Linked DNA regions of Homo sapiens. The protein of the gene in region 5 interacts with the protein of the main gene of each other region in a pairwise test. Each region holds a gene or a part of one and is shown on either strand. Other genes may lie near its edges. The genes, in order: PIBF1, PHF7, TRIM46, TRIM74, USP15, TRIM5 and BRAP.

Region 1 (4,330 bases), on a different chromosome or scaffold from region 5:
TAAGTCGACAATGTATATAAAATAGCCAAAAAAGAGGACATACTGAGTATTTAGATATATTTGTTTTAGTCCCTAACACTCTACCTTCTGCCCCTACCGCTAAATACTTTAAAGGCTTTTTGTTGGTTCTCGGTAATATTTCTTAGTACCAATCAGTAGTGTTTCTCAATATTATTGACTGCTTCAAAGCACTGTCTTCCACTGTTTTTCCTGACACACACCCCTGGTTTACCCATTGTTTCTGCGAATACTCCTTTGGGTTTTTTGGGATCCCTGTTTTTTGCCCATCCTTTAATGTTTATATTCCTTGTATTTATGTTCCTCCAAATTCTGTCATGGCGTTTGCACAGTTATTAAGCTGTTAATTTGGCTATGATCTCTTTGGAAGCCAAAGCAAAGAGGAAGCATTATAACAATATTAATTTATAGTTAATCAGCATTTACTACGTTAGACATTTTTATAAGCACTTTACATGTATTACTTGATATATGCTTCACAAGAACTCTGAGGTAGGACACCAGAATAGAGAGGTAAACTAACGTGCACAGAGTCTTACTGCAGGAATTCAGTTTTAGACAGTTGAATTCTGGAGCTTGCCTTCCTAGCCATAACACTATACTCTCTTCCAAAACAGTGACATGATTAATGATGTTTAGAAGGATAAAGCATTCTTCAGAAGAACTAAAGATTCTTGTAGGACTTAGGTCCGAAATGATATATGTGATGATCTTTCGGGAGGTGATAGCGTATCCTCAGCTGTAATCCCATAATAAGTACCATAGTAACATTCCATTCTCATGGAAAACTTCAGCGTAGAACAAGAACATAATACCATACCAAAGCAAAACACACTGAATGTAGTTTTTCCATAATTACTTCTCTCAAATAGCCCTTTGATAGAAATTTGGGGACTAAAATAATCAAAGTTACATTTAGTAGTTTAAAAAGGACAAAATCGTCTTACTCATCTTTGTATCTGTAGTGCCTAATCCGTGACCAGTCACACAGAAATGATCCAGTCAGTATGTGTGGAGTGAACATGACCTCATTTAGCTGGCCAGCTACTTAAGCAGTAATGACTTAACACAGGATGCATTTAACATGCCAGCTTCTGAAGGTGGAGTTGATGATTGGTTGCAAGATTTGATGAGTTCAAAGAAGGAAAATAAGTAGGAATTTAGTCCCGTCTGCTTCCCCTCCCAGCTTCCCATATTTAATCATTTCTTTTTTAGCTTTTATTTAATTCTTATTATATACCTGGCAGTGTTTAAAGTGGTGGAGGTCCAGCGTTGAGCAAGACAAAATCCCCACCCTTAAGATGTTTACACTCTGGTGAGATAAAGAGAAAACTAATGTGATGGTAATGATACAGTGAGATCAGTGCTCTGAAGGAGACAAGCATTTAGATTATATGCAGGTATTCAGGCAGTGGGAACAGGTTAGAAGCAGCATTAGTGGGTTCAGACAATTTCAGATCTCCATTAGGGTTGGAGGGTGAAGTGTGAATGTTAGGAATGGTGAGAAATGGGGCTTGTAGGAAGCAGCACCAGATTGTAAAGAACCTTGTGACCAACTTTAAGGTTTTTACTTCCATTGCTCTTCCCATATCAGCAATGCCTTTCTTAACATGCTACTGACATGGGGAGAGTAGAGGGAAGAACAATGTAAAGATGTGTTTCGAGGGTCACACGATTCCTTTTTTTCTGAGTAACACAATTGGAACTGCATGTTTAATCTCTTCATTAATTATTTTTCATTGTAGATACTGATATCCATATGACTTTTCATCTCTAAACTGTAAAATCCTCAAGAACAGGAAGTGTGTTTTATTCACTTCTGTATCTTCAGCATCTGATAGTAACTCAGTAAATGTTTTTAAAAAGTCATTTAACATTTGTAGTCATTTTATGTTTTAGCCTAGTAACTAAAACATAGTTGTTGTGTTATTTATTTGAAAAACAGTTTAAGTTTTAAACAACTGAGTTTACAGACCACTCTGTGAACTTAAGATTACTTGCCTTTGAATAGGGAAAAATTACTAAATTTAAAAATTGAGGAATTTTTTTTACTGTTTAATTACAAGGACAATCACAGCTTAACAGAAGACTTCAATACAGAATTTGGGCAACTATGTTAAGTGTTTAGTCTGAAATGTGTTATTATTCCTTTGGTTTATAGACATATGAGGAAGATCGAAAAAACTACTCTGAAGTTCAAATTAGATGTCAACGTTTGGCCTTAGAATTAGCAGACACAAAACAGTTAATTCAGCAAGGTGACTACCGTCAAGAGAACTATGATAAAGTCAAGAGGTAAGTAGTTAAAATGGCTGCAGTAGTAGTTCTCTATTTTTAGGGTGCATCAAAGTCACCTGAGTTTTTACCAACAATCAGTTGTTAATTTTACTTTTACCTTATTCTTCTTTGCACAAATGCATGCAGTTTTGGCAGTTTGTTGGGTTTATATTGTATTTTTATATTGGTTGTTTTTGTTTTATTTAGATGTCACTGCTGTCTTAAAATGTAAACAGAGATAGAAACCCAGTAAAATCACACGTGTGTAAATATTTTTTCAGTGTTATTTGATGATTATTTTTATGTAGTGGAATCAATTTAAATACTTAACAGTTTTCCCTGAAGTTTTTTTCAGCTGTTTCTTCCTGACAAAAGACACACACTCTTTCAAAAAAAAAATGACACTTTCTGAAAATATGTTTCCTAATATTTGCTACTTATAGCAAATACCTTTTTTTAACTGGAATATTCTTTTCTGTTGTTTGTTCAGTAATTTAATGAGCTGCTACTTAGCTGTATGTCCCTCAGTACATCTCTTTTCATTCTGAGCCTAAGTTTCATCATTTATGAGATGTTGCTAATACGGATAACTGCACTATATAAACTAAGATCAAATAAATATGAAAGCCTTTAAATATATATGTACTGCATATGTAATATAAATGGAATGACCTTATCTTAATTGTTCACTCCACTTGAAATAATTCTTAAAATGTAGTAGTCAGTGAATATTTGTTAAATGAATGAATGATTTAAATTGTGTAATTTAAATTACAAATTGCATAATACCGTATGTGAATTTGCAAAGATTTGTGGATAGAAGATTGTCATTTCTACTCCCATTATGACTGACACATGGTATTTCTTATGTATATGGCATTATGCCAAAATATGATAATTATTGGAGCTTTAAATCCATGAGAGCTGTGCTCAGTGGGCTCTGGAATAAAGCTGGAGTTCAAAAGAAGCATTTAAAAATGAAGTAGAGGGCATAGTGGCACATGCCTTTAGTCCCAGCTACTTGGGAGATTGAGGTGGGAGGACTGCTTAAGCCCAGGAATTCGAGGCTGCAGTGAACTATGATCATGCCACTGCACTCCAGCCTGGTGGCAGAGTGAAACTTCATCTCTTAAAAATATAAAATAAAAAAGAATAAAAATGAAATAGATTATGATGCTAAGATGATACCAGTTGGTATTTTCATGTCCCCTCTGCCACTATCAGTCTATAGCAATGACAGATACAATATAAAAAGAGAAAACTAAAAAGCACAGTCATCAGAATAATCCATCGGGGCCACGGATGATCATTGAAACAAGATGAGTCATGAGTTGATAATTACTGAATTTGGGTGATGGGAGCATGGGTGTTCATTATATCACCTCTATTTTTACATATGTTTTCATTTACTATAATAAAAACCTAGGAAAGAAAAATATAACCTTGATCAAAAAGCATGATAAGCATCTTTATGGTAGAAATGGAATAGTAAAACAAGAAAGGACTCAAACTATGACCCTTTTTAGTTCACTCAGCAGAATGAATGAGTTTAAAAACATCGGTCATAAAATATAAGATAAACTGGGGAAGAAAAAAAAGCCCTTTTATGCCCCGGGTAAATTCTCACAAATGTACAAAAGGAAACAGGTGTATGGATGTTAATTGTGTCATTATTAAAAGAAATTCAAATGCTTTTCAGTAGCAGAATGGAAAATAAATTGAGATTTACTCTGCAATATAATTTTATGTAGCAGTTAAAATCATTAAATTAGATCTGAATGTATCACTTTTTTTTACTAAAAGTTCCTTATTTTCTGGCATAACATAATGTTCCTAGTTTTGGTTTTCGTTTGTTGGTTTTGTAATTTCATTGCCTCAGCTCTTTGTCTAAGAAGTCTTGATCTCTTAGTGGGGAATGCTATTTAGAAATTTAGGATTTGGGTGCTATGGTCATGGCTACATTGGTCATTATTTCTAGGCCCTTTGAGTAGGCAGAGAAAGTAGAGGGAGAATGAGGAGGAGGCTTAACACACTA
Region 2 (4,330 bases), on a different chromosome or scaffold from region 5:
TTATCAATTTTGGTTCATTTCAGTATGCTTTGTAAAGGTGGTACCACCTGAGATTCAGAGTAGTTGGCAGAAGAAGCAGTAAAAAAGTAAAAGAGGGTTTGCTCTTGCATTCATTCAGTCAACATAGGCAGTACAGGCACTGGGGAGAGAAAGATGCTTACAATCCGGTTCCTGCCCTCAAATAACTCAGTGAGTATGTTTTGCACTTAAAAAAAATATGAAATATGGCCAGGTGCAGTGGCTCATGCCTGTAATGTCAGCACTTTGGGAGGCCGAGGCGGGTGGATCACCTGAGGTCAGGAGTTCAAGACCAGCCTGGCCAACATGGTGAAACCCCGTCTCTACTAAAAATATAGAAATTAGCTGGGCGTGGTGACAGGCGCCTGTAATCCCAGCTCCTCGGGAGGCTGAGGCAGGAGAATTGCTTGAACCCAGGAGGCAGAGGTTGCAGTAAGCTGAGATCGCACCACTGCCCTCCAGCCTGGGCAACAGAGCAAGACTCTGTCTCAAAAACATATATATGTGAAATATGAAAAGAAGCTGATGTCTTAGGCTTTAGATATGTTGGTCCTTCATCAGACCCATGAATGGCATTTTAAGAGAAATGTTAAAAAGGTTATCAACAAGATCCCCAAAGAACACCTTGTGCTTCTTATTTCTCTTGTATAGAAAATCTGCCAAGACTAGGAGGGTAACCCAGAGGAAACCGTCTTCAGGGCCTGGTAAGAAAGACTGGAGCTTGTGTTCGCCCACTGCCTCCAGCCCTCAGCAAAGAAGGCCACCTGTGTGGGGCAGTATACTTGCTTCTTCTCTCTCTCCCAGCCCTACTTCCTTCCTAGATTCTCTAAGATCTTGAGGACTCAGGAACTGCCATTTTAAATTACCATGTCTGAAGTTCAAGAAACAAGTTATTAAAGTCACTTTAGAACAAAACAAAACCAAAAAAAAATGAAGTGAGCAGTTGTGGCCAACTTTTTCATTGTAACCAGAATTATGTGACAGACTAATTGATACCACATAAGACCTCATCCCAACCTTCCTCCTTGCCAAAATGACCCTTTTCCTAGTATTCTACTCCTTCCTGACTTAGAGGAATGGTTACATTCTCACCCTTCTCTTCCATTCTTAATGGTCAATTTGAGCCAAATTCTGGGTGTCCTCTCTTCCAGTTTGCTGGCTATGCCTTCGAGAACCTGGGGATCCCGAAAAATTAGGGGAATTTCTTCAGAAAGACAATATCAGCGTGCATTATTTCTGTCTTGTGAGTATGAGGCCTCCTTTGCTTTGAATATCCTATGGCTTTTGGTGTACTGACTGTTCTCTGTTACATTCATCCTCATATCCACAGCCTTGTTTTTTTATTTTTCTTAATAGCTTTTTTGTTTTAAAATCTATTTTTAGGCTGGGTGCAGTGGCTCACGCCTGTAATCCCAGCACTCTGGGAGGCCGAGGCAGGAGGATCTCTTGAACCCAGGAGTTCAAGACCAGCCTGGGCAACCTTGTCTCTACAAAAAAATTAAAAAAAAAAAAAAAAAAGCTGGGTATAGTGACAAATGCCACTCCGGAGGCTAAGGCAAGAGGATCGCTTGAACCCTGGAGGTGGAGGCTGCAGTGAGCAGTGATCACACCACCACACTCCAGCCTGGGTGACAGAGGAAGACCTTGCCTCAAAAAAAGAAAAATATATGTGTCTGGTATAAAATCTTGACAGTATAAAGTAAGTTCAGTAAAAAAGTCTCTTCCCTAAACAATGTTCCCAATCCTTCTCCCTCTCCCCAGAAACAAATGCTGTCAAAGTTGTAACATCCTTCCAATTGCTTTTTCCCAGTATTTTTTTATTAGGTATAACTTTCATACTGTAAAAATCACCAATTTTTTTCTTTTTTTGAGAACGGAGTCTCACTCTCTTGCCCAGGCTAGAGTGCAGTGGCGTGATCCCGGCTCACTGCAACCTCTGCCTCCCTGGTTCAAGTGATTCTCCTGCCTCAGCCTCCCAAGTAGCTGGGATTACAGACACCTACCACCATGCCTGGCTAATTTTGTATTTTTAGTAGAGACAGGTTTCACCGTGTTAGCCAGGCTGGTCTTGAACAAAATTCACTAATTTTAAGGGTCCAGTTTGATAAGTTTTGATAAATGTATGTCCCCAAATAACCACCACCCCAATCAAAATAGGTAATATTTTCATCACCCCAGAAAGTTCCCTCCTGCCTCCTTTTCCAGTCAATCCCACTAGACGTAATCACTGTTCTGATCTATGGATTATTTTTGGCTATTCTTTTACTTCATATAAGTGAAATCATATAGTTTATAATCTTCTGTATCTGGCTTTTTTCTCCCAACACAGTGTTTTGGAGATTCATCCATGTTGTTGCATGCATTCATAGCTTGTGCCTTTTTATTACTTGGTAGTATTCGGTTGCATGAATAAGTTACTATTTGCTTATCTGTTCACCTGTTGATGAACATCTGAATTGTTTCCATTTGAGGACTATTATGAATAAAGCTACTTTAAGCATTCATGTACAAGTCTCTTTGTGAACATGTGCTTTCACTTCTCTTGTGCAGATGCCTAGAAGTGGAATTACTAGTTGTATGCTAATTAGATATTTAACTTTATGTGAGGTTGCCACATCACTGTCCAAAGCGGTTGTACCAGCTTACACTCCTACCAGCAATTTATAAGAAGTCCAGTTGCACAGTATTCTTGCCGGAACTTTGTTTTGTCAGTGTTCTTAATTTTAGCCATTCTACTGGGTGTGTATTGGTATTTCATTGTCGTTTTAATTTCCATTTTTCTGATGACTAAAGCTTCTTTTCATGTGCATATTGGCCATTCACATATTTTCTTTGGTTTTTTGGTTTTTTTTTTTTTTTGAGATGGAGTCTCGCTCTGTCGCCCAGGCTGGAGTGCAGTGGTATGATCTTGGCTCACTGCAGCCTCCACCTCCCGGGTTGGAGCAATTCTCCTGCATCAGCCTCCCAAGTAGCTGGGACTACAGGTGCCTGTCACCACGCATGGCTAATTTTTATATTTTTAGTAGAGACAGGGTTTCACCGTGTTAGCCAGGATGGTCTCGATCTCTTGACCTCGTGATCTGCCCACCTCGGCCTCCCAAAGTGCTGGGATTACAGGCGTGAGCCACCGCGCCTGGCCCGGCCCACATATTTTCGTTTGTTAAGTATCTGTACAAATATTTTTACCCATTTAAAAACACTGAGTGGTGGTCGGGCACAGTGGCTCACGCCTGTAATCCCAGAACTTTGGGAGGCCGAGGCGAGCAGATCAAGAGGTCAGGAGATGGAGACCATCCTGGCTAACACGGTGAAACCCTGTGTCTACTAAAAATAAAAAAATTAGCCGGGCATGGTGGCAGGCGCCTGTAGTCCCAGCTACTCGGGAGGCTGAGGCAGGAGAATGGCGTGAACCCAGGAAGTGGAGCTTGCAGTGAGCCGAGATCACGCCACTGCACTCCAGCCTGGGCGACAGTGCAAGACTCCGTCTCAAAAAAAAAAAAAAAAAATTGAGTGGTTTTATTATTGAGTTGTAGGAATTGCTTATATATTTCAGATACAAATTCTTTTTCAAATATATGTATTGAGACTATTTTCTTCCTAGTCTTTGGCTTGCCTTTTCATTTTCTTAATGGTGTCTTTCAAAGAACAAGTTTGTAATTGTAATGGAGCCCAGTTTATCCATTTTTTTCTTTTATGGTCAGTGCTTTTTGTGTGTTGCAAGAAATCTTTACCTACCCATAGAATTGCCTTGGTGCCTTTGTCAAAATCAATTGACCATATATCTGTGGATCTGGATAATCTATTTATGTCATTGATCTATGTATCTATTCTTACACAAGTCCCCACTGTCTTGATTATTGTGGCTTTATAGTATATTGAAATTCAGTATTGTTAAGTTCTACAATCTTTTCCAAGATTGTTTTGACTATCAGGTCCTTTCTTTATAAAGTTTATATTAAGCTTGTCAATTTTTCTTTAAAAAAAAAGTCTACTGGGATTGTGATTGGGATTGCATTGAATTTATAGGTCAATTTGGGAAGAATTGACAAAAAATATTGAACCTTCCAATCCATGGACATGGTATATTTTTCCACTTATTTGGGTCTTTTAAAATATATCTCAGCAATGTTTTGTTGTTTTGGTGACAAAGTCTTGTACATCTTTTGTTAAATGTATTCCTAAATATTCTGTGGTTATGCTATTGTAAATAGTATTTTTATTTCATTTTTAAGTTTATTGCTGGTATATAGAAATGCATTTTATTTTTGTATATTGATTTGTATCCTGTAATCTTGTTAAATTGAGTTTGATT
Region 3 (4,330 bases), on a different chromosome or scaffold from region 5:
CCTCCCAAGTAGCTGGGATTACAGGCATGCGCCACCACACCCAGCTAATGTTGTATTTTTAGTAGAGATGGGGTTTCTCCATGTTGGTCAGGCTGGTCTCAAACTCCCAACCTCAGGGGATCCACCCACCTTGGCCTCCCAAAGTGCTGGGATTACAGGTGTGAGCCACCTTGCCTGGCCTTTATTTATTTATTTATTTATTTATTTTTCCGAGACGTCGGAGTCTTGCTCTGTTGTCCAGGCTGGAGTCCAGTGGCGCGATCTCAGCTCACTGCAACCTCCGCCTCCCAGGTTCAAGCGATTCTCCTACCTCAGCCTCCCGAGTAGCTGGAATTGTAGGCACGCACCACCACGCCTGGCTAAGTTTTGTATTCCTAGTAGAGACGGGGTTTCACCATGTTGGCCAGGCTGGTCTCAAACTCTTGACCTTGTGATCCGCCCGCCTCGGCCTCCCAAAGTGCTGGGATTACAGGCATGAGCTACCTCGCCTGGCCTATTTATTTTTTTAGAGATCGGGTCTCGCTGTGTTGGCCAGGTTGGTCTTGAACTCCTGGCCTCAAGCAATCCTCCCTCCTTGGCCTCCCAAAGTGCTAGGATTACAGGCATGAGCCGCTGCACCTGGCCAGTATTATCGTTATCCCTACAGAAAAGGACTCTGAAGTTCAGAGAGGGTAAAAACTTGCCAGAAGCCACCCACACAGTTGGCAAGAGGCAGAGCTGGGATTTGAACCCAAGCAGTCTAGCTCCAGAGCTAGTGTGTGTGAGACCTACTATGTTATATGGCCTCTCTAGCGGCCACCGGAACCAACCGTCAGGGCCTAGGCCCTGGCATACCCCATGCCCTTTGCACGACCACCTGTGCCTGCCCACTCACCAGGTGCCGGGGGCGTGTGCAGGTGCACATCTTCACTGTATTCGCCGTAGCCGGCCTTGTTGCAGCCGCGGACACGCAGCACATACACAGAGCCCGTGTCGGGGTTCTCAAGCAGGGCACTGGTGCCCCTCACCTCCTCCCGCCGCTGCCAGCGGGTGGGGCCTGGCTGAGCAGGCACATCCGTGCGCCGGAACTCAACGGTATAGTGCCAGGCAGGTGGTGAATGGGGGGGCAGCCGCCAGCACAGGAAGATCTGATCATAGGCAAAGGTGCGCTGGGTGTCAATGACGGGGGCCTCAGGCACTGTTGGAAGAGACAGCGGGTGTCAGTCAGGGCCTGGCCACTGGCCTGGCATGGAGGGCAGGGGCAGGCAGGAAAAGGGAAAGCAGCGGGAGCCGGGGGGGTGAGTGTGGGTGAGAGGGAGCTGGGGAAGGGCTCATCTGGGAACTGGGCACAGGAGGGGTAGGGCAGGGCCCAAGAGAGAACGAGGCAGGAAAGCGCTGGGCTGGGGGTCAGGACACCTGTGTGCTAGTTCTGGGCTGCTGCTACCTCACTCTGGCCTGGAATAAGTCACTTCCCCTTTCTGGGCCTCAGTTTCCTCCCCTGTCAAATGAGGGTATCAGATCAGGTAAGTTCTGGGGGCCCTTGCAGCTCAGTTATTCTATGAATTAAGAGGAGCCCCAGGGAGGGGCAGGCAAAGGCCACTGGAGCCCACAGGCAAGAGGGCGCTGAGCAGGAAGGAAGGGGACCAGGCTCAGAAGAGAGATTTAGGAGGCAGCGAGGTGGAAAGTGGGGACAACAGAGGGACAGCAAAAGCTGAGGGCAGGGGTTGGAGGTCAAGGGAAAGGAAGTGCAAGGCCAGAGGGCAAGGGTCACAAGGACAAAAGGTCAGAAGGGCCAGGATTACGCAAGCGCCTGAAGAAGGCAGAAGGGAGACAGGGCATTGGTCCAGTGGGAGGACCACGAGGTCGGGGCAAGGCAGGAAAGAGAAGGAAGCAATGAGTGGTTGGCTGAGATGCGTGGGAGCAGCGGGGTGGGAAGGGGGCCCGGCGGCGGGCAGGGCCCCCGGGGCAGGGCCGCTGACTTGCCTGGGGTGCTCCGGAGCAGAGTCCGCGGTGGCCACAGCCTACAAACAAAGAGAGGGAGAAGCAGCGCTGAGCGCGGTAGGACGGTGTGGCAGGGTGGGCTGGGTGGGAGGAATGGCTGGCCAGGCCGGGCAGGAGGCCGGGGAGGTCCCCGGTAGGCACTGCCCCCCGGGCCCGCTGCTGGGGAGGAAGGGAAGAAGGCTCTGGTTGGGCATGGGGCCTGGCCATCTCCTTACCTCGCAGGAAGTTAAGCTCTGTCAGCAGCTTCATCTCACGTCCCACGTCGAGCTGGCAATGGCGGAAGGAGGAGCTGGCAGCTGGCCGGAATGTCTGGAGGGCTTCAGTGGCTCGGGCAATCCTGGGATGGGGGCAAGAAAGGGTCAGGCACTGCCATGTGGGCAGTCTCCCTTCCCCTCAATTCTGTCTTGCTTGCCCCTAGAGCCTTGGGAACTGCTTTGGGAGCTGGTATCAGTTTGGCCTCATGAGAATCCTTAGAATGCCAGTTCTCCACCTGGCAGTACTGTAGACATTGTCCTAGATGTTGGTCACATCCATGATGTCCCTGCCCCCCTAGGAGCCCATGCCCCTGAGTACCTGTTGTGCAGCTGCTTGGCGGCTTGCACAAAGCAAGGCTGGTCTGTTTCCTTAAGTACTTCCTGGGCATAGCCCACCAGACCTGAGCCATCCAGCAGGCTCCGGTGCTCCTGGATCTGGGCGCTGAGACGGGCCAGCCGCTCCTGCTGGCATTCTTCAATGGCCTGAAGCAGTGATGCCCGCTTCTCCTCCAGCACAGCCCCCAGCCCCCGCACCAGCTGCGACACCTCCTCCTTGGCCTGCTGACCACTCACCTGCCCAGGGAGCAACACCCAAAGGATGCGTGACTTACTATCTTCTTTTTGGAGGCAGCACTTGTGCTGGCCTCCTTGGATGCCACAGCATGGCTAAGGTCACAAGGGATCTGGGGAAATCCTACTCACCCATTCCTACAGGGCCTGGGCTCATGGCTGCAAAGGCACCTCTAGATGGACTCAACTCCTGGTCATTTGTGCCAACCTTCCCGGAACCCCACATCATAATCTCTGCCCCTTAGTGACTCATCCAAATGAACGAGGCCATGGCTACCCTAATGTCCACTTGGACTGCACTAATTAATGTCCACTGGCATCTATGCCATCCTTAGTTGTCCATCCCCATGTCAGCCAGCTCAAGCAACCTGGCAGAAGGTATCAGTCATCACCTCACTCTAGCACTGGGAATGCGTGACATCCTCGGTAGGCACCTGAGCCTGAGAGCATCTGAGCTACGCGTGGGGTTTTTTGAGCTATGCATGGGGTTTTTCGAGCACTCTCCTGAGCTATAGCCACCCTGCCCCCTCCTGCAGCCCAGGTACAGCCTGGCCTGGGGCACTGGTGTTCCTGCAAACCTGGTTTAACCAGAACCTGGACACCTCACGGGCTTCCTGAGCTAGCAACAAGGTGATTGGGTCATGATCACCCACACCCCCTTCCTGCCCCTACTCCCAGGCAGGGCCCAGGGCCTACCTCTGTGCCCTCCCTCACCTCGGTGTGCCTCACGGCCTCCTCCAGCTCACAGATCTGGGTCTGTACCGTGTCCTGGTTTCCCAGGATGTATGTCAGGCTCTTTGTCAGCTTGTCCTGAGGGGGAAGAAAGAGGTGGGCATCAAGCCCAGCTCTGCAGAAGCCAGCAGTTGGGAGGAGGTGCAAGAGGGTAAGAGTGTGAGTTAGCACTAGGGTTGGATAAGGGGGGTCCTTACCTTGAGGGCCTGGTAGGCACTGAGCACTGGTGTGATCTTGTGCCCGCTGTGGGTGCGCCGCACCCGGCAGAGTTGACATACCAGGCGTTGGCATGTCTTGCAGTAGTGGGTCACCTCTTCCTTGTGGTCTGGGCACATAAGGCCCTAGGGACACAAAGAACAATGTGATGGTCAGACAATGGTGTGGGTAAGGGTGCTATGCTACCACTACAGCAGTTTGGTGCCCTCCTCCACTGGCAAGATGGGAGTGGAGACATCCGCTGGTGGTGCTCCACAGTGCCACCTGGTGGTACATACTGGCATCAAAGAGCCTTTCCTGCAGTCTCCGGGCGGTGCCCATTTCACCAGCATTGCACCTCCCTTCATCTCTCTCATTGGGATATATGGTAATAACAGTAATAATGATGCCAATTAATCTTTGCCTGGTAGTTAATAATTAACCTTGTCCATCTTGTTTACTGCTGTATCTCCAACACCTAGAATAGCACCATGCACATAGGTGCTCAATAAATATTTGTTCAGTGAGTGAATGCACACAGACCTTTTCAGTGTGCAGGTAACACTTTTTAGTGAACAAACATTATCTCACACCATCCT
Region 4 (4,330 bases), on a different chromosome or scaffold from region 5:
CACAGAATACAACTAAATTGCACTCCTTTATTGCCCTCTTTAAGGTGTTCCCGTTGCCTCCTGTTTATTGAGATCTTGAGATGCTCGATTGATGGGTGCATTGATTTGCATAACTTAGTTCTTCTCACGGGGAAGGAATGAGTCCCGTCTGTCTGCCTGGGGAGGGTGACATTGGAATGCTGTTCTTAGGCCTCTGTGAGATGTTCTGATGCCTCATTCTCCAGAGCAAGGACTCTGTCCGTTTATGCCAGCAAGTGCTTGATTCTTTACCCAACTCCCTTCCTGAAAGCCCCTTGCAGCTCTCTGGTGCTTGGGCACGATCCAAGCCAAAAATTCTGTACATTGCATGGGTATAAACCGACGGGGGCTCTGGTCAAGTCATGGAGTAGATGGTGGTCCAGGAGTCCTGGTTGGCACCCCCAAGGCTAGGTCAGATTTGGGGCCCGGGCAGTCCAGGAGAAGTGCATTTATGTCAGCTTGGGGAGGTCGCAAATCCGTGCTGTGTCCAAGCCCACCAGGAATGGATTCAGGTGTTTATAGGTGTGGGGATTCACCAGGTTAAACCCAGGCCCGTGTGAGCACCACTGGCCCTAGAATTAGCCTCACCTGGCGCCGGCCTTTTTGTGATGGCTCCTGATTAAATACCCACTAATTCTGGATCTGCTGGTGACCACAGAGTTCACCTGATGGGTCCCCTACAGGCAGCATTCAATCCAGGAAGTGCCAGCATCACATGGTGACTTCTGGTAGCTGTAACATTTAGTGACTGTCTCCATGTCATGCACAGGGGTGACATCGAGACCCTCTTATGCCTGGGAAGTTCCTGCTGTCAATGCAGAATATTCTCTTTTTTTTTTTTTTTTTTTGAGACGGAGTCTCGCTCTGTCGCCCAGGCTGGAGTGCAGTGGGCGATCTCGGCTCACTGCAAGCTCCGCCTCCCAGGTTCACGCCATTCTCCTGCCTCAGCCTCCCGAGTAGCTGGGACTACAGGCGCCCGCTACCACGCCCGGCTAATTTTTTGTATTTTTAGTAGAGACAGGGTTTCACTGTGTTAGCCAGGATGGTTTCGATCTCCTGACCTCGTGATCCGCCCGCCTCAGCCTCCCAGAGTGTTGGGATTACAGGCGTGAGCCACCGCGCCCGGCCCAGAATATTCTTTGAAGAAAAAAAAAACATTAGAGATGGGATTTCACTGTGTTGCCCAGTCTGGTCTCAAATTCCTAGCCTCAAGTGATCCTCCCATCTTGGCCTCCTAAAGTGCTGGGATTACAGGCATGAGCCACTGTGCCCAGCCTAGAATATTCTTTTTTTTTTTTCTTGAGATGGAGTCTTGCTCTGTTGCCCAGGCTGGAGTGCTGTGGCGCAATCTCGGCTCACTGCAACCTCCTCCTCCCAAGTTCATGCCATTCTCCTGACTCAGCCTCCGGAGTAGCTGGGACTACAGGTGCCCGCCACCATGCCCGGCTAATTTTTTTTGTATTTTTAGTAGAGACAGGGTTTCACTGTGTTAGCCAGGATGGTCTCGATCTCCTGACCTCGTGATCAGCCAGCCTCGGCCTCCCAAAGTGCTGGGATTACAGGCGTGAGCCACCGCGCCCGGCCCTTAGAATATTCTTGAATTATCTTATTTTTTATTTTTATTTTTTGAGACAGAGTCTCACTGTGACACCCAGGCTGGAGTGCAATGGCATGATCTCAGCTCACTGCAACATCAATCTCCCAGGTTCAAGCGATTCTCGTGCCTCAGCCTCCCAAGTAGCTGGGACTACAGGTGTGTGCCACCACACCTGGCTAATTTTTGTATTTTCAATAGAAATGGGGTTTCACCATGTTGGCCAGGCTAGTCTCAAACTCCTGACCTCAAGTGAAGTCCCACCTCAGTCTCCCAAAGTGCTGGAATTACAGGCGTGAGCTACTGCGCCCAGACTATTCTTGAACAATTTAACCTGTTTTGGACTCAAGGGTACCTGGGTGGCTCTGGTTCCCGCCCTGGTTTCCCTGGGAGTGCTTGTGGCCATTGGGATACTCCCAAGAAGGTGATCCAAGGAGCTGAGAAGGGGAGGGATCAGCTGCTCATGGGGCCATGGCCTGTTGCCTCCAGGAGGAGCTCGCAGCCCTCTTCTCTGAGCTGAAGCAGGAGCAGAAGAAGGTGGATGAGCTCATCGCCAAACTGGTGAAAAACCGGACCCGAATCGTCGTGAGTGCCCCTTCCCTCTGCCCCTGCCTGGGACCGGCCACCTTCACTTTCCTGTAGAGCTCAGTTCTCATTGGTCCTTTACAGAAAACCATGCCTTCCATATAAAGCCAGAACTCAAAGCATTCCGGGGCGGGGTGGGGAAAGCGCAAATCCTCTCAGGGGAATTCAACCCAGTTGTCGTTAGGACTGGCTCCAAGTTGGCTTTTGCCCTCTGTGTCCTTGAGACTGAGATAACCCAGGACTTGAGTCTCGGGGGTAAACAGCTGAAAGCATGGGCGTGACTCCTCCGCCCCTGTGCCACCTGTGTCTGCTTGACCTTGCCAGCCTGTCATGGTGCCCTCCCAGTACCTGGGTGCGCAGGCGTGGAGAGGCTGGCAGCCCTGGGCCCTGGCTGATCTCCTGAACTGAGAGGCACATGGGGCTGGGACGCATAGTGCCCCGGCCCTGGAGGTGGCTGTGAAACAGAAACAGGAGCCGAGCAAGATCCAGAAGCACTTGGCCTCCCTCATTTACCCTCCTCACCCTTGCGCGGCAGGCGGTATCAGCCCTGCCTGGTGGAGGCGGAGCTCAGGGTTCTGCAGGGAGTTCTGGCTCCCTCACAGCAAAGCCCGCTCGCCCAGGGCCTTCCTGCTTTCCTTCAGTTGTGGAACTCTGGGATATGCACATTTAATAGCTGAAATAGGCAAAGTGGGGTGTGGTGGCGTGCATCTGTAATCCCAGCAACTCGGGAGGCTGAGGCGGGAGGATTGCTTGAGGCTGGGAGGTCAAGGCTACAGTGAGCTATGATCGTGCCACTGCGCTCCAGCCTGGGCAACAGAGTGAGACCCTGTCTGTTAAAAAAAAAATTAAAAATTAAAACAGGCCAAAGCAGAGCCTCTCCATTTGAAATGGGAGCTGGGGCCACCCTCCCCACGGCCACCGCCAGGGCTCCCCATGCATGGGGTGAACTCCCTGCCCGGCGCCAGGCCATGCAGCCTCCCCTGAGACTCAGGTCCCAGGACCAACCCGGTCAGGAAGGCCCTGGGGACACCGAGGCCAGCCAGACAGAGCCTGGCAGCTCGGCTGTGACTCTGCAGTGAGCAGCCCTCCCTGTCCCAGAATGAGTCGGATGTCTTCAGCTGGGTGATCCGCCGCGAGTTCCAGGAGCTGCGCCACCCGGTGGACGAGGAGAAGGCCCGCTGCCTGGAGGGGATAGGGGGTCACACCCGTGGCCTGGTGGCCTCCCTGGACATGCAGCTGGAGCAGGCCCAGGGAACCCGGGAGCGGCTGGCCCAAGCCGAGTGTGTGCTGGAACAGTTCGGAAATGAGGACCACCATGAGTTCATCTGGGTGAGTGGACAGGGAGGCGTCCCATCCCCATACCCGCCAGGGCCTTCCCCTTCCCAACAGTGCCCTGGCTTCCCACCTTCTAGCCTTAACCTCCCTCTCTCTTGCCTTCCAGAAGTTCCACTCCATGGCCTCCAGGTAATAACCTTGGAGAGAGCTCAGCCAGGGTCTGGTGGCTGCGGGCACGGGCATCTCAGCTCCACTGGTTCCTCCATTCAGCTTAACCAGCGCCTCCCAAGCAGCTGCCTATAGCTGGCTCTATAACTGAGCCTGGGGAAGATAGAGGAAAGTCACGTCCCTGCCTTCAAGGGTCTCGCAGACAGGTGGGGAGGCAGATGGTGAACTGTGGGTACCTAGAACAGCAGAAGTTCACTCAAGCTACAGAAATACTAGAGGAGGGTAGCTCATGCCTGCAATCCCAGTACTTTGGGAGGCCAAGGCAGGAGTATTGCTGGAGGCCGGGAGTTCGAGACCAGCCTGGCCAATGTAGTAACACCCCCGTCTCTACAAAAAATACAAAAATAAAAAAATTAGTTGGGCATGGTGGCATGCGCCTATAGTCCCTGCTACTCATAAGGCTGAGGTGGGAGGATTGCTTGAGCCCAAAGTTTGATGCTGCAGTGAGTCATGATCATGCTACTGCATGATCCAGCCTGGGTGACAGAGCGAGACCCTGTCTCAGAAAACAAAACACTAGAGGAGGAGCAGGTGTCTGGGAGGCCTGGCAGAGGGGCACACGCCTGATGGCTGAGAAGGGCCCAGGACCCGAGTTTGCCAGGCAAGCCGAGGGAACAGTCCTGTAAAAGG
Region 5 (4,330 bases):
TCACACTGTATGACAAGCTTCTTGAAGAACAAGGACTAGAAACACCATTATATTTCTAGCACCTTGCACAGCATAAGAGCCTAAGATATAATATATATTCAATATTTTTCCTAATAAGCTTCCATGACCTAAATCAACTTCAATGACGGGAAAACTCAACAAATAGGGAAACTCAGCTAATTTCACTTTTCTTACAAGCTGGTCAAAGCATAGTGTTAATGAAATGAGGTGATCATTTTGTATTTGAGTTGTTACTGCCTCTAAATGGAAAAAAGGAAAAAAAAAAAACACAAAACACAAAAACAAACGAATTTCTCTGTGCTAACCATGGCTCTAACCTCCGCAAATTTATATTATTGGTCACCAAATGAGAAAAGTGATAAGTCAATGAAATTCACATTGCTGGAAAAATAATTTAGAGCCCAATTTATGGAAGAGCACTTATCATATACCTTATGGACTAATGTGTAAATTAATGCAATTTGCCACTATTGATATAGATTACCTTATATTATTGGCATGGGAGAATATTATCTCTAACAAATGTGCTGTAGAGAAATAAAACATCTACATTTATTTTTTGTTGCAGTAAATTTATACTTATTATTCTACGCTCTCTTGCTCCATTACACTCATTGGTGTATATCTGCAAAGTTATAAACTAGAGAGGTAAGGATGTGGTTTGGCACTGTTATAGTTTCTCACCATTGAAAAGAATGTTGACAATCTTGTACTTATAAACGAGTGAATAAGTGAATATCTAAAGGATATAACTTTAAAAATGTGAACACATATTCCCCAGGCCAAAAGTAAAAGCAGGTCTTTATTGGCTCTGCTCACAGATAAGGGATAGTACTTAGCACTCTCCAGTGAAATACTGATATGAGGGCATTGTGTTCAATGAGTTCATAAAGAAAACATAAAGCAGCAGAAAAACAAATTGCTTAAATTTGCATAACTGAGTACATACCTAGTATCTACTAGACTTTAATTACTTTGAATAAAAGGACTGTGTGTTTATGAACACTACATATACCCTGTCTTTGTTGACAATAAACCCAAATACATCCCTGAATGGTAAGATCATAATTTTGTTCAAATATAGCTTTCATATAGACATCGTGACTATTATGCACTAACAAACTGAGCTATTTGGCTAAAAATTTACAGAAAACAATCTTCTAAAGCAGGAATCATATCTTTTTTGTTTAGCCAAAGAGCTTTATACTTAGTAGGTGCATAGTTAAGTATCTTGATGAATAAAATTTTTGAATACTTCTTGTGCATTAATATTTACCAGCCACAAAAGCTGGAAATACAAAGGTTTACAAGGTCTCTGTCTTCAAAGACTTGTAGTCTAGGGATAAAAGATAAAAGTAAGCCAAAAGTTATAACAAAATTAGTTAAGTGTTAGAATTTAGGGAAAGAGAGGTAGAAAAAGAAGAAGTTACTTTCACTGGGATGGGTCAAGTGTCAGAAGAGGATTAACTGATTAATAAATAAGGGAGAAAAGATAGTGCTTTACCCACAAAATATAAATAATCCAATTATAACACTAGGTAACGGAATCAGGCAGACAATTTGACAGTAAGACTTACCACAGGACTTTTGCACAGAATAAACAATATGTGATACTTCAAAGTATTAGAAATTAGAGAACATCACTGAACAAAATATTTTTAGTCTAACTGAATTTCTACTTTCTTTTAAGTTCCTAAAATGCCTAAAAATTACAGGTATTTAAATACACTACTATCACACTATGAATTAAAAGTATTAGCTTTACTTCCAATAGCCACTAGTAAAAAAAAATTACAATTAACACTAAAGAAAGTTGAAGTTTAAAAAAATTAAAAATATTATGTTGATCTTCATAAGCTAATATTCACCCCAATATTATAAAAATAAACCTCTATAAAAAGCCTTTTGAGAATTTTTTATAAGACACACGTTGCTCTTTCAAGACTGTAAAAAGTTACACTGATTTCCAAAGTATTCAGCTTATAAAATCTCTTATACAAATAAACATTATTGATTGGGCTTGATAATTCAATACTTAATTTTTATAATAAGGACTCAACACTAATTTTTTAATAAAAATAACAAATGCAAAAAAAAAAAAAAAAAAACAAAACAAACCAACCCATGATTTACCTGCATAGGTTTGGTAAGTGGATCCATTCTAACTAAGTAAACTTCCAAGGTGCGTTCTTTTTTCATGGGCAATGGAAGTGTCAAGTAACAAAAAGGATCAAATGTTACTGAAATCTTAGCACACTCAGGACAAACTAAAGTTGATTTGAAAAGGCCATGAAATATATCTACTATGATAGAATCATTTCGTTTTAAATGGTTTTCCCAGGCTTCTTCGGCAACCACCTACAAGGATAATAGACACAAATTAGAAAGAGGTATCACAAAATTATAACAATGGTGACAATAGGATCATGAAATTTACCTTATCTGGCCTTCCATCTGCATCTTTTAATTGTATATATGGTTTTTTCCTAATTCTATTCAAATCCTCATGTAATCCATCTAATAGGAAAGCTAACAGTTCTTGACAGTCTTGCTGCTGATATCCAGAGAACTGAGGTGCAAAACGTCCTACCTGTGTCTGTAAGAAATGCAAAACCATCAAATCAGTTCTAGGAACAGGGTTGATTTTTAAACATATGTACAATAGATTCTCATTATTCATGGATTCCACATTTGTGAATTTGCCTGCTTTCTAAAATGTATTTGTAACCCCAAAATCAATTCATGGTCATTTGTAGATATTTTCAGAGTGGCAAAAAATTTGAGTCACCTGATATGCATGTTACCAGCTGGGGTTGAACAAGGTGATGCTTTGGCTTGTTGTTTCAGCTCTGAATCTATAAACAAGTGTCCTTTGTAGTTTATTTAGTGTTATGTTTTTTCACATTTTTGTTTGTTTTGTTGTTAATTTCAGTGTTTAAAATGGTCACTAAATGAAGTACAAACATGCCAGCTAGTGTTCCTAAATGCAAGAAAGCTGTGATGTGCTTTATGGAGAAAAAGTATGTGTTAGATATGCTTCATTAAGACATGAGTTATAGCACTGTTTGCTGTGAGTTCAATGTTAAGGACTCAACAATATATATTAAACAAGTTGTTTTTAAACAGAAACACATGCAAAACAAAGTTATACATTGTCTGGTTGACGAAAATGTTGTGAACAAAGGCTTGGAGGAATCAAACCCTATAGTTTCCCTAGGAGTAATGGTTCAGTAGTTGTTATTTCAGTGTTTGTGGCAGCTTCATTGAACATAACTCCTGTGAATAATAAAAATTGTATACACGAACAACAGGAATATATATGAATTATATTTTGTTTTGCATTCCTAGTAAGCACTCAACAAAGCTTATCTGGGACAAAATAGATCAACACATGTAATCTTTAATATATAAAAATGTATTGATCTTTGTTTGGTCATAGATTTCATTGTCATTAATTGTTGTTTCACTATTTGTCAAAGGATTTTCCAGATGTCCTTAATTCTTAGCTTTAGGTATTCCTATTGCCTCCTCCTATAAATGTCTGGTAGGTAGACAGGAAGAGGCAGGTTCTCATCCTTGCTATATTACCACATAAAGATAATTACGTATCTGAAAGCATTTTTAAGATAACTACTCTAGGCTCTCACTTAGTTTCTATGCGCAAAAGGAGGATGAGTATCACAGAGATAACAGAAACATTAATGTTCATATTCAATTTTCCTAATCTTTCATCACTAAGTATTTTTGTTTTTGGATGAGACTGAAAATAAATGTAATAGTATGAATCATCATCTGACAGAAAAAAAGTCACACATAAAGAACCTATTTACACATAATTTTAAGAGAGAAAATCTACCAAAATAAAACCAATTAGAATGCTAGTAAGAGCTGAGAGATGGTTTGTCTGGACTAGTTTGTCCAAAGTTTAGAATGTTAAGGAAGACAATACAGAGGCATTTTGATTTGCTGGTTTTTTATTTTCTAAGAACTAGTATATAGCTAATAAAAAATGTTGTCCAGTAGATGTCCTCTATCAATGCCATTTAAATTACTTGTATAAATAACGACTTAAAACTGCTTATTCTCTCTACAAGTTTAAAACTTCTCAAAGTTTCACCTATATAATTAAGTAGGCATTTTTTTAACAATATAAAGCTAAATTTCAGCCATAAAGCTAAATTTCAGCTCAATTCTTATTTGAACAATAAATTATTTGATAAGTAACAATTCACACATGTGAATAACCTTAAAAGTTTAAGAACTATATTGAAAGTACATTTAATTTTTAATGCTTGGTTTGCAGACTATT
Region 6 (4,330 bases), on a different chromosome or scaffold from region 5:
GGACAGTTTTACATTTTCCATTTCACCCCTCTTACAACTCTAGGCAGCATAGCGTGTGAGAGGTACCCTCCACAAGGAGAAAGAGGGGAAAATGAGCACCAAATGTTACCTCAGACCCTAACACTGGGCTCAACCTAGTAAAACCCAGCCTGGCAGGTCTGAAGACACCAGACTCCAGACTGGTATCTATGGATAAGCCTCCAGGCCGTATCTCACAGCCTAGGCTCTAGATCTGTGCAGTGGACTCAGTCTACGAGCTATCTAAATGCGAGGTTGCCCTCAGTGGTAGGACCATTCTCAGTTGTGTTGGAACAACTGGATAGCCATATGCAGAAGACTATCTCACACCATGGAGGACTTTAAGTAAAGTAAGTCAGGAACAGAAAGACAAATACTGTATAACATCACTTAGTATGTAGATGTAAAAAATAGTTGAGCTCATAAAAGTAGAGAGTGGAAGAGGGGTTTCCAGGAGCTGGGGTGTAGGGAGAGTTGAGGCCGATATTGGTAAAAGGACACCAACTTCAGAATGAAAAGATGACTATCTTCAAGAGATCTATTGCAGAATGTGGCAATTATAGTTAACAATGTATTGTATTCTTGAAAATTGGGATAAGAGCAGTTTTCTTTTTTTTTTGAGATGGAGTCTCGCACTGTTGCCCAGGCTGGAGTGCAGTGGTGCAGTCTTGGCTCACTGCAAGCTCCGCCTCCCGGGTTCACACTATTCTCCTGCCTCAGCCTCCCAAGTAGCTGGGATTACAGGTGCCCGCCACCACGCCTGGCTAATTTTTTGTATTATTTTTTTTCATTTGTGGGGTACAATGCAAAATGAAAATATGCGGCCCCTTGTTCAAAATTTATTAAACATTTCAAGATGATGACAACAGAGCATTAAATCAAATGCAGGTGAGAGAGGGGTAGACACATCCTAAGGTGCCCTGGGGTTCCGAGGAATACAGCATGAGAAACACTGAACGTAGAGCCTGAGACAAGGACCTGGGTCCAGGTGATTTACCTGACCCCAGGAAGCAGGAATGAGGGAGCAGGGAGGTAAGACAGGGAGGAGGAGAAGCCAATGTATGAGTAAGCTGTTGGGGTTGTTTCTGGGCATTATGGGATCATGATCCCACCAAACCTCCTGGGAATGCCCCAGAATCTCTGCCCGAAACACTGAGAGCTGAGGCATTTCTCCATCAACTCCCAACCCCATTGGTTGAAGGATGCCCCTGGGGGTGCTAGCTTTCTTGCATTTCTTTTTTTTTTTTTTTCTTCTGTTGTGTTTTTTTTGTTTTTGTTTTTGTTTTATTATACTTTAAGTTTTAGAGTACATGTGCACATTGTGCAGGTTAGTTACATATGTATACATGTGCCATGCTGGTGCGCTGCACCCACTAACTCGTCATCTAGCATTAGGTATATCTCCCAGTGCTATCCCTCCCCCCTCCCCCCACCCCACCATAGTCCCCAGAGTGTGATATTCCCCTTCCTGTGTCCATGTGATCTCATTGTTCAATTCCCACCTATGAGTGAGAATATGCGGTGTTTGATTTTTTGTTCTTGCGATAGTTTACTGAGAATGATGATTTCCAATTTCATCCATGTCCCTACAAAGGACATGAACTCATCATTTTTTATGGCTGCATAGTATTCCATGGTGTATACGTGCCACATTTTCTTAATCCAGTCTATCATTGTTGGACATTTGGGTTGGTTCCAAGTCTTTGCTATTGTGAATAATGCCACAATAAACATACGTGTGCATGTGTCTTTATAGCAGCATGATTTATAGTCCTTTGGGTATATACCCAGTAATGGGATGGCTGGGTCAAATGGTATACTTCAGCAAAGTCTCAGGATACAAAATCAATGTACAAAAATCACAAGCATTCTTATACACCAACAACAGACAAACAGAGAGCCAAATCATGAGTGAACTCCCATTCACAATTGCTTCAAAGAGAATAAAATACCTAGGAATCCAACTTACAAGGGACGTGAAGGACTTCTTCAAGGAGAACTACAAACCACTACTCAAGGAAATAAAAGAGGATACAAACAAATGGAAGAACATTCCATGCTCATGGGTAGGAAGAATCAATATCGTGAAAATGGCCATACTGCCCAAGGTAATTTACAGATTCAATGCCATCCCCATCAAGCTAACAATGACTTCACAGAATTGGAAAAAACTACTTTAAAGTTCATATGGAACCAAAAAAGAGCCCGCATCACCAAGGCAATCCTAAGCCAAAAGAACAAAGCTGGAGGCATCACACTACCTGACTTCAAACTATACTACAAGGCTACAGTAACCAAAACAGCATGGTACTGGTACCAAAACAGAGATATAGATCAATGGAACAGAACAGAGCCCTCAGAAATAACGACGCATATCTACAACTATCTGATCTTTGACAAACCTGAGAAAAACAAGCAATGGGGAAAGGATTCCCTATTTAATAAATGGTGCTGGGAAAACTGGCTAGCCATATGTAGAAAGCTGAAACTGGATCCCTTCCTTACACCTTATACAAAAATCAATTCAAGATGGATTAAAGACTTAAACGTTAGACCTAAAACCACAAAAACCCTAGAAGAAAACCTAGGCAGTACCATTCAGGACATAGGCATGGACAAGGACTTCATGTCTAAAACACCAAAAGCAATGGCAACAAAAGACAAAATTGACAAATGGGATCTAATTAAACTAAAGAGCTTCTGCACAGCAAAAGAAACTACCATCAAAGTGAACAGGCAACCTACAAAATGGGAGAAAATTTTCACAACCCACTCATCTGACAAAGGGCTAATATCCGGAATCTACAATGAACTCAAACAAATTTACAAGAAAAAAACAAACAACCCCATCAAAAAGTGGGCGAAGGACATGAACAGACACTTCTCAAAAGAAGACATTTATGCAGCCAAAAAGCACATGAAAAAATGCTCATCATCACTGGCCATCAGAGAAATGCAAATCAAAACCACAATGAGATACCATCTCACACCAGTTAGAATGGCAATCATTAAAAAGTCTGGAAACAACAGGTGCTGGAGAGGATGTGGAGAAATAGGAACACTTTTACACTGTTGGTGGGACTGTAAACTAGTTCAACCATTGTGGAAGTCAGTGTGGCGATTCCTCAGGGATCTAGAATTTTTTGTATTTTTAGTAGAGACGGGGTTTCACCGTGTTAGCCAGGATGGTCTCAATCGCCTGACCTCATGACTGGCCCGCCTGGGCCTCCTGACCTCATGACTGGCCCTCCTGGGCCTCCCAAAGTGCTGGGATTACAGGCGTGAGCCACCGCGCCCAGCCTTTACTAGTGAATTCTATTGAGCATATAAAGAAGAAATGATAGCAGTTATTTAATTCTTTTCAGAAAATTAAAAAAAAAGGAAAAAGTCTCAATTAATTCCATGAAGGAAAAAAATAAAAAGCATCTTGTATTTTGACGTGTATTTGTTTGCCAGTGGCTAAGCTGAGCAATGAAAAGCTGCACTGGTAAGTCTCAACACTAGAATACAGAGAATAGGAACCTATCAAACATGACTAGAGCTAATTGATCATCTCCACTACGTCAAATTTTTCTACTGCTCTGGATAAATTAATAAAAATGGGATTATCTCTTGCTACTTCTACATTCAATTATTCTTATAACTTCAGCAATTGATTCAGAAAAGCGGTCCTGCAGAGAACATTGTTAATATTAGAAAAAGCACAGCAACGCAGAGAAGGAAATAGCCTTCACTTTTCTTTAATCTCAGTGCTCAGGCTTCTTTCCACTTTTTACCTGAAGCAGCTCCATCACTGACCCCTGCAGCCGATGCTCCAGATCTGAGATGAGCTCTCTCAGGGACTGGGTCTGCTGCACCATCTCAGTTTCAGAGTTCGTAAGGCTTTTCAGAATGTCTTCCTCCTCCTTCTCCAGGTTTTGCAGCTCATTGCTCTCCTCCCAGTCCAGGATGTCTCTCAGTTGCTCAAAATCTGCCAAGACGTTGGTTTTGTCATACTGTATTTGAGTCTTCAGAGATAAGAGAAGAGAAAGGGGCACTCAGTCTACCAGGCAGAGGCTGTTAGCCAGAAAAGGAGCTGTTTCTTTTGGGGAGTTCTCACAAGGAGGGGACATAGTAGCAGGAGAGTAGGTCTTAGGAAAGCTGCCTTTTCCTATTTCTTTTCCTTCATGACATTTTAAAACAATGACCTTGAATGGGTATATTGAGGTTCATCCTGCATCAAAATGGGTTACCTGGATGTAGCTTACCTTTCACACAGCTATGCAGGACACTCATGCCTGCCTGTATTACTTCTCAGCCCAAGCTCAAACTC
Region 7 (4,330 bases), about 49 Mb from region 5:
AGTATTTAGTATTATTTTGTGTGGAGTATAATAGAAAACAGTTAATGGATTTTTTCAACATTGTTTTTATTGGCTTTTTGTAAATTGAGACATGAATGCCTGATAGAGCACTGGTATCTTCCACATGATGTTCACGGTGCAGTGAGATATCATGTGCATTTCAATAAGTACATTAACACCTTTGTGTTTAGCCAGGTGCGGTGGCTCATGCCTGTTATCCCAGTACTTTGGGAGGCCAGCATGGCCAATATGGTGAAACCCTATGCCCACTAAAAATACAAAAATTAGCTGGGCATGGGGGTGCATGCCTACAATCCCAGCTACTTGGGAGGCTGAGGCAGGAGAATCATTTGAACCTGGGTGGCAGAGGCTGCAGTGAGCTGAGATCGCGCCACTGCACTCTAGCCTGAGTGACAGAGCAGGACTCTGTCTCACAAAAAAAAAAAAAACCTTTTTTTTTTACTACAGATTTTAAATCCAATTCTTAGGAGCAACCTGGAGAAGAAAGGGTACTTTTTGAATGATTTAAATCTTTGGGAAATGGGGATAAGGCAGGTTGTTTGTTGGAGTAAAAATACATTATAGGCTGAGCACGGTGGCTGACGCCTGTAATCCCAGTACTTTGGGAGGTCAAGGCAGGCAGATCACCTGAGGTTGGGAGTTTGAGACAAGCCTGACCAACAGGGAGAAACCCCGTCTCTACTAAAAATACAAAATTAGCTGGGCGTGGTGGCGCATGCCTGTAGTCCCAGCTACTCAGGAGGCTGAGGCAGGAGAATTGCTTGAACCTAGGAGGCTGAGGTTGCAGTGAGCTGATACTATGCCGTTGCACTCCAGCCTGGGCAACAAAAGCTAAACTCTGTCTCAAAAAAAAAAAAAAAAACAAGCTGGGAGCTGTGGCTCACACCTGTAATCCAAGCACTTTGGGAGGCCAAGGCCAGTGGATCATGAAGTCAAGAGATCGAGACCATCCTGGCCAACATGGTGAAGCCCCGTCTCTACCAAAAATACAATAATTAGCTGGGTGTGGTGGTGCATGCCTGTAGTCCCAGCTACTCGGGAGGCTGAGGCAGGAGAATCGCTTGAACCTGGGAGGCAGAGGTTGCAGTGAATTGAGATCGCACCACTGCACTCCAGCCCAGGCAACAGAGCAAGACTCTGTCTCAAAAAAAAAAAAAAATTATAAATAATCAGACATGAAATGAAGTCCTAATTGTAACCTGTAAATACTTAGCTCTTTGATCATCTAAGCTTTAGACATAAGAGCGGAAAAGGACATGAGGCAGATCCCAATTTCTCTGTTCTCTGTTTTATCAAGATTTTGTATATTTTTATTTTGTATATTTTATTTTAAGTGATATCCTTAGTTATGATAAAAATAGCATATAAGAGGAGGAGGATATAAAATCCAGTGTTTGACTTTTGGGTTCTGTAACAGCTGTCTTTTATATTTAACCTGCACCATTATCTTTTGGTGTCCTGGATAGGTGTCCTGTTTGCCGGTACTGTCAAACGCCCGAGCCAGTAGAAGAAAATAAGTGTTTTGAGTGTGGTGTTCAGGAAGTAAGTAATGGGTGATGGAAAAGAACAAAGAATGCAGCTTTAATTGTCATGAGTTTTCTTCTGCCTGGTATGACTTAAGTTCTTTATTTTTAATTTATTTTTTATTTTTTATTTTAAGAGACAGGGCTTACTGTGTTGCCCAGGCTGGTCTCGAACTCCTGGCCTCGAGCGGTCCTTCCACTTCAGCCACCCATAGTGCTGGGATTGCAAGTGTGAGCCACTGCACCCAGCCTAAATTCTTTAAAATTTTTTTTCTTTTTGTCTAGGGTTGGGCAAGACATATGAATACACAAATTATGTTACTCCTGAGCTAAATTTATTCCTTTTTTCTTTGCACTTTTGAAAGGCTTAGACTTTTACTGATGAATTGTGAATTTTTTTCTTGCTGTTCACATAGTGCTCCTTAGAAATCAGCAAAAAAAAAATGACCCATAAAAGCATCCTTGATTGTTGGGTTTTAAACATACATTTAATCACTCAGGCTCCTGTAGAAACAGTTTTTTCTTTTTCTTTTTCTTTTTTTTTTGAGACAGGGTATCATTCTGTTACCCAGGCTGGAGTGCAGTGGCATGATCATAGTTCACTGTAACCTCAAATACCTGGGCTCAAGCCTTCCTCCCATCTCATCTTCCCAAGCAGCTGGGACCACAGGTGCATGCCACCATGGCCTAGTAGGTTTTGTTTTGTTTTGTTTTTGTTTTTTCTAAAAAATTTTGTTTTTGTTTTTTCTACAAAAAAAACATTTTGTAGAGTTGGGGTCTTGCTATGTTGCCCAAGCTGGTCTTAAACTCCTAGGCTCAAGCGATACTCCTGCCTCAGCCTCCCAAAATGCTGGGATTACAGGTGTGAGCCACTGTGCCCAACCAACAATTCTGTCTTCTAGTGTCTCAGGTTCCTTCCCACTCTGAGTGAGCTGGATCGATTATTTGTTTGTTTGTTTGTTTTAAGACAGAGTCTTGTTCTTATCACCCAGGCTGGAGTGCAGTGGCACGATTTCGGGTCACTGCAACCTCCACCTCCTGGGTTCAAGCGATTCTCTTGCCTCAGCCTCCTGAGTAGCTGGGATTACAGGCAGCTGCCACCACGCCCAGCTAATATTTGTATTTTTAGTAGAGATGGGGTTTCATCATGTTGGCCAGGCTGGTCTCGAACTCCTGACCTCAGGTGATCCATCTGCCTCGGCCTCCGAGCCATCGCGCCCAGCCAGATCATTTATTTTTATTTAACTAATTAAGATCTTACCTCTTCCGGCAGAATCTTTGGATTTGTTTAATATGCGGCCACATAGGATGTGGACGGTATGTCAGTCGACATGCTTATAAGCACTTTGAGGAAACGCAGCACACGTATGCCATGCAGCTTACCAACCATCGAGTCTGGGACTATGCTGGAGGTGAATACCACTCTCTTTTCTAATTTGGACTCATTCTGTGTGGAAACTTTGCCTTCACAACGCCTTCACTTTCCCTCCCAGCTTGAAATGTCATCTTTTGACAGCTGTTGCAAACCCAAATTCTCAGTTTCCCTGAGGGCACTATTTTTCTAGGAATGTCTTGAATCACACATTATAAAGGGAGTTAATACTTCCATTCTTGCTTTCTCCCTCCCCTCTAAAATTCAAATGATTTGACACTTTTAAAGAAATATTGTAAGGCATTTAAATTAGATCTGAAAAAAAAATTTTGTCAGAGTTAAAAGTGTACAGAGACCCTTTTCATTCTAAAGAAACACACTTTTGTTGACTCTTTCTGTAGATAACTATGTTCATCGACTGGTTGCAAGTAAAACAGATGGAAAAATAGTACAGTATGAATGTGAGGGGGATACTTGCCAGGAAGAGAAAATAGATGCCTTACAGTTAGAGGTAAGAGATTTAATGAGTTATCACTCTATCTGTTTCTACTGCTCTTTACTATTCTAATTTGAAATATTTGTCATTTACCTGGATGTACATTTTTTTTTTAAAGTTTGGTCATGGCCGGGCGCAGTGGCTTATGCCTGTAATCCCAACACTTTGGGAGGCTGAGGCAGGTGGATCACCTGAGTTCAGGAGTTCAAGACCAGCCTGGCTAACGTGAAACCCTGTTTCTACTAAAAATGCAAAAAATTAGCTGGGCATGGTGGCACACACCTGTAATCCCAGCTCCTCGGGAGGCTGAGGCAGGAGAATCGCTTGAACCCGGGAAGCAGAGAATCGCTTGAACCTGGGAAGCAGAGGTTGCAGTGAGCCGAGATCGGGTCATTGCACTCCAGCTTGGGCAACAAGAGCGAAACTCTGTCTCAAAAAAAAAAAAAATGTTTGGTCATTGCTGTGAGGTGTTATTAAAATATTTTTATTCTGTTTTTCTTCTTTGAAAGTCTAAATGTCAGCTGGGTGCAGTGGCTCACACCCCTGTAATCCCAGCACTTTGGGAGGCTGAGGCAGGCGAATCACCTGAGATCAGGAGTTCAAGACCAACCTGGCCAACATGGTGAAACCCTGTCCCTACTAAAATTAGCTGGGCGTGGTGGTTCATGTCTGTAATCCCAGCTACTTGGGAGGCTGAGGCACCAGAATTTCTTGAACCTGGGAGGCAGGGGTTGCAGTGAGCTGAGATTGTGCCACTGCATTCTAGCCTGGGTGACAGAGCAAGACCCTGTCTCAAAAAAAAAAAAAAAGTCTAAGTTTCACTGTGCCTTGTTACTTTCATTGTGATGTCTGTAGTTGTCTCAAGTTCAGTGTTAAGATTTGTTTTCCCGTAGCTACAGGCTAGAGTACAGTGGTGCA

What was found.
Region 1: the proteins of USP15 (region 5) and PIBF1 interact in a two-hybrid assay, tested with the Homo sapiens proteins (one large-scale study listed by BioGRID).
Region 2: the proteins of USP15 (region 5) and PHF7 interact in a two-hybrid assay, tested with the Homo sapiens proteins (one large-scale study listed by BioGRID).
Region 3: the proteins of USP15 (region 5) and TRIM46 interact in a two-hybrid assay, tested with the Homo sapiens proteins (one large-scale study listed by BioGRID).
Region 4: the proteins of USP15 (region 5) and TRIM74 interact in a two-hybrid assay, tested with the Homo sapiens proteins (one large-scale study listed by BioGRID).
Region 6: the proteins of USP15 (region 5) and TRIM5 interact in a two-hybrid assay, tested with the Homo sapiens proteins (one large-scale study listed by BioGRID).
Region 7: the proteins of USP15 (region 5) and BRAP interact in a two-hybrid assay, tested with the Homo sapiens proteins (one study listed by BioGRID).

The regions. Positions count from the first base shown.
Region 1 is NC_000013.11:72,819,670-72,823,999, forward strand, and holds part of PIBF1 (progesterone-induced-blocking factor 1), read left to right. Parts: intron 1-2,179; coding exon 2,180-2,313; intron 2,314-4,330.
Region 2 is NC_000003.12:52,413,327-52,417,656, forward strand, and holds part of PHF7 (E3 ubiquitin-protein ligase PHF7), read left to right. Parts: intron 1-669; coding exon 670-722; intron 723-1,169; coding exon 1,170-1,261; intron 1,262-4,330.
Region 3 is NC_000001.11:155,176,479-155,180,808, reverse strand, and holds part of TRIM46 (tripartite motif-containing protein 46), read right to left. Parts: intron 3,878-4,330; coding exon 3,734-3,877; intron 3,615-3,733; coding exon 3,519-3,614; intron 2,808-3,518; coding exon 2,554-2,807; intron 2,318-2,553; coding exon 2,196-2,317; intron 2,001-2,195; exon of another isoform or gene 1,963-2,000; intron 1,178-1,962; coding exon 875-1,177; intron 375-874; coding exon of another isoform or gene 307-374; exon of another isoform or gene 130-306; intron 1-129.
Region 4 is NC_000007.14:72,959,217-72,963,546, reverse strand, and holds the end of TRIM74 (tripartite motif-containing protein 74), read left to right. Parts: intron 1-2,101; coding exon 2,102-2,197; intron 2,198-3,295; coding exon 3,296-3,526; intron 3,527-3,638; coding exon 3,639-3,665; 3' UTR 3,666-4,062; downstream 4,063-4,330.
Region 5 is NC_000012.12:62,382,127-62,386,456, reverse strand, and holds part of USP15 (ubiquitin carboxyl-terminal hydrolase 15), read right to left. Parts: intron 2,618-4,330; coding exon 2,459-2,617; intron 2,380-2,458; coding exon 2,155-2,379; intron 1-2,154. UniProt on the Homo sapiens protein: Hydrolase that removes conjugated ubiquitin from target proteins and regulates various pathways such as the TGF-beta receptor signaling, NF-kappa-B and RNF41/NRDP1-PRKN pathways.
Region 6 is NC_000011.10:5,674,410-5,678,739, forward strand, and holds part of TRIM5 (tripartite motif-containing protein 5), read right to left. Parts: intron 4,026-4,330; coding exon 3,795-4,025; intron 1-3,794.
Region 7 is NC_000012.12:111,657,833-111,662,162, reverse strand, and holds part of BRAP (BRCA1-associated protein), read left to right. Parts: intron 1-1,487; coding exon 1,488-1,563; intron 1,564-2,817; coding exon 2,818-2,956; intron 2,957-3,317; coding exon 3,318-3,427; intron 3,428-4,330. UniProt on the Homo sapiens protein: Negatively regulates MAP kinase activation by limiting the formation of Raf/MEK complexes probably by inactivation of the KSR1 scaffold protein.